2 linked regions of the Homo sapiens genome follow. The gene in region 1 interacts genetically with each later gene. Each region holds a gene or a part of one and is shown on either strand. Other genes may lie near its edges. The genes, in order: MYLK and MYLK2.

What was found.
Region 2: changes in MYLK (region 1) and MYLK2 together harm fitness more than expected from each alone (negative genetic interaction), as found in Homo sapiens cells (one large-scale study listed by BioGRID).

What each region holds. Positions count from the first base shown.
Region 1 is NC_000003.12:123,702,530-123,706,342, forward strand, and holds part of MYLK (myosin light chain kinase, smooth muscle), read right to left. Parts: intron 1,481-3,813; exon of another isoform or gene 1,337-1,480; intron 1-1,336. UniProt on the Homo sapiens protein: Calcium/calmodulin-dependent myosin light chain kinase implicated in smooth muscle contraction via phosphorylation of myosin light chains (MLC). Also regulates actin-myosin interaction through a non-kinase activity.
Region 2 is NC_000020.11:31,831,968-31,835,195, forward strand, and holds the end of MYLK2 (myosin light chain kinase 2, skeletal/cardiac muscle), read left to right. Parts: intron 1-36; coding exon 37-169; intron 170-1,749; coding exon 1,750-1,830; 3' UTR 1,831-2,717; downstream 2,718-3,228. UniProt on the Homo sapiens protein: Implicated in the level of global muscle contraction and cardiac function. Phosphorylates a specific serine in the N-terminus of a myosin light chain.

The sequences.
Region 1 (3,813 bases):
ACTCATGCCCCTGGATGTGGCCGTCTCACTAGCACTCAGACCCAATAGCAGATGTGCCAAGCTCTGTGACAGATTCTTTACATGAGCCATCTCATTTAATCTTAGAACAGCTCTGTGAGATTAGAGTCACCACTGTTTTTATAAGGTAAGAAATATGAGGCTTATAAAGGTAAAGTAGTCCAGGCGCAGTGGTTCATGCCTGTAATCCCAGCACTTTGGGAGGCTGAAGTGGGAGGATTGCTTGAGCTCGCACGTTTGACACCAGCTTGGGCAACATAGCAAGACCTTACCTCTATTAAAAAATATAATACTGAAGGTCAAGGTTAAGTAATTTGCCTAAACACACAGAGCTTGCTAGTGGAGGGAGGGGTTGGGACCTGTGACCCTATGACCTTTGCACTCTACCCTACTGTGCTTATCAGTACAAATCTGGTCTGGGACATGTGTGTGTTCATGCACATATGTAGTTATCAACCATACACATGATGTACACATATACTGGTCTAGCTGGCAGGCACCTGCACCTGGAGGTCTGTGTTTGGGAATATGTGCACATATGAGTTACATCCACCTGGACAGGCATCTGAGCATGCGTTCTTGTGTATTCTGCTGGCGTGTGTGGGTCTCCACCTCACTCTGCCTGGCCTCCCTCCCAGTGGACAGACACTGGTAGCCCATGGCCTGGCCCAGGATTCTCAGGGGCTCTGGGGCGCTGCTCACCCTTGGGTGCTGGCACCCATTTGAAGCAAGGAGAAGCCAATCGTTGCTGTCCTCCAGCCCTCCTCCCGCCTGCTGGGCTCCTCTCCTTTGTCCTTCTCTCCAGTGCCCTCGTGCTGTCCCAGGCTGTGCTGGTGCAGGTGCCTTCCTGACTGCCTTAGCTCTTTCACTCCTCTCTCCTCCCTGGCCATGTATCCCATAGCCTGTCCCCTCCCAGCCACCCTCCTCAATGCTCAGACTGTCAGAGGGCACAGATTCAAGGTGCAGGGAGTCTCAAGTCTGGAGAATTTTGAGTTCAGGTTGTTCCTTTGCTCAACAAACAGCAATTAGAAACCTCATGGGTGCCAGGCCCTGGGAGAACGAAGAGGTCCTCAGTGTGCCCCGAGTTCTCAACACTTAAAAAGGCTTATGGACTTTGGGTGAGCTTGTAGAATAACTGTGTGAGGTCACCCTGCTTCTGCCAGGCTGCTGGCCAGTGTCAGGCCACTCTTTTCCTACCTTTAAGCACAGCCTTGTGGTGCCTGGGTTGACATGGAGCAGGAAGATGAGATGCCCAAGGGCTGTGTTTGCCTGGCAGCCCTTTCAGCATCTCCTCAGCAGAGTTTCCTCCTGTCACCAGTAGAACACAGCCCAGATGCAAACATCAGGAGCAGACACTGCCCAGATGGCGGCTTTACCCCAGCTGGACTCCTCTGAGGCTTTGGTGGTGGACAGCCCTGTGCCGCAAGCTGGAGTAAGCCGATTCTCCCCATGGGGGAAGCAGGTAAGGGCTTCTGTCACTTTCCATGACCTGTGCTCAAGGTGGGGAGCACAGACTCAGACAAGCCTCTCAAGGGCTCCTGTCCAATCCAGCCCCAGGCCTTACCCTGTGGCCCCCAGCAGTCTAAGGGGTCAGAGAAAGGTGGAGGACTTGGGATACAAAGGCTGACGCATTAAGTGGATCACCTGGTGGCAGGGCAATAGCAGTAACTATTCCTACAGCCATACCCTTAAATCTCTGCTGGGCCTTTAAAGCAAACCATGGGTTCATTTGCAGCCTATAAAGTTCATAGTGGCCTCCTGCCTGGGACCCACATGTCAGATCACCTAAGCTGCTGGAACAGGGTCTTGGGGCCATCTTTGACATCTGCACATAACCAGTTACAAAATCAGGGCCGGGGCTGAAGATGAGGCCCCATCCCAGGAGCTGCCACAGAGCATATGGGGCTATCATCCTATAAACTGAACCTTTCACAAAGAGTCCTTTTGCCTTGGCTTACTAAGCTCTGAATAAGAGTTCCACTCTGGTTACAAAGCCTTGGATCCTGTCCCACCCTGAATCATCTACCTCTTGGATGGGTTCTATATGGAAAAATTACTTTAAAGAACTAATTTCGGCCGGGCATGGTGGCTCACACCTGTAATCCCAGCACTTTGGGAGGCTGAGGTGGGCGAATCATGAGGTCAGGAGATTGAGACCATCCTGGCTAACACAGTGAAACCCCGTCTCTACTAAAAATACAAAAAAAAAAAAAAAAAAAAAAATTAGCCGGGCGTGGTGGTAGGCACCTGTAGTCCCAGCTACTCAGGAGGCTGAGGCAGGAGAATGGCGTGAACCCGGGAGGTGGAGCTTGCAGTGAGCCAAGATCGTGCCACTGCACTCCAGCCTGGGCGACAGAGTGAGATTCTGTCAAAAAATAAAAAATAAATAAAAAAGAACTAATTTCCTGGCAAGTGTCAAGTGTTTCAAGTATTCCAGCTGGAATTTTGAGCTGACTTTTTGTCATTTCCCCTTTTGGTACAGTAGACAAGAGCTAGGAAGGGAAGAGAGGCAGAAACTACCCACCCATACCTGCCTCACAATCCTAGCAGGGACAGGCAGGATCTGCCCACCCCTCTACCCCCTGCACACCGGACCCCCGGCTTCCTCCCAGCCATCCAGTCATTCCCCTCGAAAGGCACCCTGCTCTACGTCTAGGTTGCTGGAGGAGTGAGGTCTCTGGCAGGCCTGCCACGTACCCTCAGGAAACTCTCCACTGACTTGCTTCTTCTCAGGTGGGGAAAAAGCCAAGGCCAGGGCAGTGGCCTCCGAAAGGAATGAAGAGGCTGGACTTTGGGGAAGAAAAAGAGGCAAAGGCTGCAGGCTGGAGGCTCCAGTGTGGTTTCCCAGGTCCTTCCAGTTCCCTGTGCACTTGGGAGAAACTCCCCAAGCAGAGCCATAAGGAATGGAAGAGCATCTGATTTAAGTCAAAAGATGAGGGCTTGAACTTGGGCTCTGTTACTTGCCTTTGGATGGCCACAAGCAAGTCCACGACCCTGAGACCTCAGTGTCCCCCGTTATTAAATGACGATGAGGCTGGATAACTTCTGAAGCCCCTTCCTGCTGGGACAGTCTAAATTTTATGACTGTCCCCAGCTGGCCCCAGACAGTCTGCCTGCCGACCTCCTGGTGCACGCCTCCTCTCTGGCCTGGCAAACTTCCCACAGCCCTTTGCTTGGCTCTGCCCCCACCCCACCCTTTCTTGCTCGGCCTACTCAACAGCTAAGCCTTATCACATTTGCCAAGATTCAGCCTTCCTTTTCCATCAAAATCCCCAAACAAGCTCATCTCCTCTAGGATGTCTGGCTTGAGTAATGTAAGTATTATCTCAAAGTGCTACTCCTTCTATACTGACGAGATCATCAGCAGGTATTTTTACACATCATCGGTTTCCATTCTTTGTACTGACCTAGGGGGTAAGCGTGTACCTTCTCCCCATTTTGGAGGCAGAGTGGCCTTCCTGGTAATAACTAGTTCAAGCATAATGCAAAGGCAGTTGATGCATTCTGAGTGTACCGCTAATAATAGTAGGGGGACCAGCAGCTCACAAGCATCCCATCACTTGACCACAACAGACATGTCATTGAGCTCAGCTGAGATTAGCCTTGCCTAAATCAGCAGAACTTTATAGGAGACCCAAAGACTCCTAAGAAATAATGAAACTGCTTTAAAAATAAACGAGCTATTTTTAATAGTTATTAAGTATTGGGGTGGTTCGTTATGCAGCAAAAGATAACTGATTCAGGTATAAAGCACATGGTCACAAAGGACCTAAGGGGATGGGGTACATATTGGGT
Region 2 (3,228 bases), on another chromosome or scaffold:
ATGCAGCCCACCGTCACCATGCTGCCTCTCCCCCAGGGCCCGGATGAACGCTGCCCAGTGTCTCGCCCATCCCTGGCTCAACAACCTGGCGGAGAAAGCCAAACGCTGTAACCGACGCCTTAAGTCCCAGATCTTGCTTAAGAAATACCTCATGAAGAGGCGCTGGAAGGTACCGCTGGATTCAGGGTGGGGAGGGAGGGCTTGCTAGTGGGAAGAGCTCCTGGTGCCAGATCCCAGCCTCCACCGTCCCTGCCTTGGCAGGTTCTGTTGACCAGGCTGGGCCCTGTCCGGAAGACAGGGTTGACTTTTCTGTTTTTGCCCTGGGCTGGCTCCTGTCCTAGAGTGGAGACCTCTACCCGGCCTTCCACCCAGCCCCACCCATCTGGGGCTCTGGCTTCCCTCCTTCATTTTTCAAATATTTCTTGAGCATCTACTACTTCTAGGCATTGGGATATAGGAGTGGACAAAAGAGACAAAGATCTCAGTCTTTGTGGAGTTACTTTTGGTGAGAGATGGGGCATTTTCTATCTTTTTTTCTTTCTTTCAATACAGTCTTGCTCTGTCACCCAGGCTGGGGTACAATGGCGTGATCTCGGCCCACTGCAACCTCTGCCTCCCAGGTTCAAGCAATTCTCCTGCCTCAGCCTTCCAAGTAGCTGGGATTACAGGCACCCACCATCACACCTGGCTAATTTTTGTATTTTTAGTGGAGACGGGGTTTCACCATGTTGGCCAGGCTGGTCTTGAACTCCTGACCTCGTGATCCACCTGCCTCCGCCTCCCAAAGTGCTGGGATTACAGGCGTGAGCCACTGTGCCTGGCTGAGGTGGGGCATTTTCTAGAGCCCTGTGGAAATAGGCAGGGTTAAAGAAGACTTTAGAAAAAAAATAAGGGCCTTCTGCCGGGGAGAGGTTGCACTTTTATTTTTATTTTTTTTAGAGACAGGGTCTCACTCTGCCTCCCCAGCTGGAGTGCAGTGGCGCTATCATGGCTCACTGTAGTCTTGACCTTCTGGGCTCAAGTGATCCTCTCCTTTGGCCTCCTGAATAGCTGGGACCACAGACATATGCCACCACATCCAGTTAATATTTTAAAAATATTTTTGTGGAGATGAGGTCTCGCCATGTTGCTCAGGCAAGCAATCCTCCCGCCTTGGCCTCTCGAAGTGTTGGGATTACAGGTGTGAGCCACTGTGCCCAGCCTGCACTTCTAAATAGGGGGGGTCAGGAAGGGCTCACTGAGAAGCATGTGAACAAAGACCTGAAGGTGGGGAGGGGTGAGCCGTGCCAATACTGGGAGAAGAGTATTCCGGGCAGAGGGAGTAGCCAGTGCAAAGGCCCTGAGGCAGAGGTGTGGTTGGAGAGTTTGAGGAACAGGTAGGAGGCCAGTATGGATGGAGTGGAGTGAGCAAGGAGGTAAGGAATGAAGTTAGAGAGGAAGAGGGGGACAGGAGTTGGAGGGACTCATCGGCCATGGCAAGGGGTTTATCTTTTACTTGGAGCAAAACTGGAGCCATGGGAGTGTTTGGAGCAGAGCGGTCCTTGGTTCAGGTCTGGCTGACCTATCCGTTGAGTGAGGGGACTCCTGGACAATACAGTGTCATGGCGCCTCCCGTGGCCATTTTGGGCACTGCACCTTCTCTAGCCTGTGACCCTCCTGGACTGAAGGGGACTTACAGGCTGCTCAGACACCCTGCAGCTGCCCCCCTGCCCTGGTGTTGACTGGGACTCCCTCTCTTCTGCCCTCTAGAAAAACTTCATTGCTGTCAGCGCTGCCAACCGCTTCAAGAAGATCAGCAGCTCGGGGGCACTGATGGCTCTGGGGGTCTGAGCCCTGGGCGCAGCTGAAGCCTGGACGCAGCCACACAGTGGCCGGGGCTGAAGCCACACAGCCCAGAAGGCCAGAAAAGGCAGCCAGATCCCCAGGGCAGCCTCGTTAGGACAAGGCTGTGCCAGGCTGGGAGGCTCGGGGCTCCCCACGCCCCCATGCAGTGACCGCTTCCCCGATGTGAGCCGCCTCGGAGTGTGGCCTGGATCCATCCTGCTAGCACCTCCCCAGACAGGGCTCCAGCCTGTCGGCCACACCCCAGACTCCAGGCCCCCGTTGAAGCCGCTCCCGGTTCCCTCCCCAGCTCCTCGTCTTTGAACTGCCGCCGCCGTGGTGACCCCTGCTTTGCCCCACTGGGAGAGTCCTTAGCCTGGGCCTCCTCCTAGCTGGAGTGCCATGGCTGGGGGGTCTCAGCATGTAGGGCTTCTGTGGTTGTGGATGGGAGGCTCCTGGTGGGGCAGAAAGGCTGCAACGCTGATTCCTAAGGCCCAGCTGCCAGGGAAGACAGAGCAGGCTTTGTGAGAGAGGACCTCCATGCCCCCGCCACCTCCCCACTCCAGCAGATAAGGCCGAGCCCACACCATCTGGCCCAGGCTGGCCCCCACCCACCTTCCTTGCGACCACCAACACACAGGAACTCTGTGTGAGAGAGAGGGCGCCCAGCCCAGGCCTGGTGGAGGGGGAGGGGAGAAGCCAAGGGACACAGGAGACCACCCCCGAGCTTGCCTCAGGGCCAAGCCGGCCCAACCCAACCACTCGGGGCCCCCATCTTGGGGGTCACCCATGGCCTCAGATGATGGGGTCAGCAGGCCCAGGAGAATTAGGAAGGCCATGGGGCAGCCTCCAGTCTGCTCTCAGCTTGTGCCTTGTAAATAAATGTACAGGTTGGATGTGGCCTCCTTCCCTCTGTGTGTGCCTGCACTGGTGTGAGGTCGCTGATGACCACAGTTCACTGAGCACCTACTGTGTACCGGACACTTTAGCAATATCCGTCAGCTCACAGTTTGGTGGTTCATGCAGGCTCAGGTGCCAGTCTGCCCAGCACATGATGTGGGCAGGTGGCTTCTGCACGTTGTGCCTCAGTATCCTCACCTGTGAGAGGGAGGTCGCAGCAACAGCCTACACCGGGTGTGTGATTACTGCGTGCCCAGCTTTACTTAAAGCGCCTGTGCTGTGTTAACTCATTTACTCCTCACAGCAAAGTTACGAGGCAGGATTGATTGGTTGATTGATTGATTTATGATGGAGTCTCACTCTGTCGTCCAGGCTGGAGTACAGTGGTGTGATCTATGCTCACTGCACGCAACCTCCGCCTCCCGGCTTCAGGTGATTCTCATGAGGCAGGTATTATTATTCCTGTTTTACAGAGGGAGAAACTGAGCCAGAGAGAGTGGGCAGCGC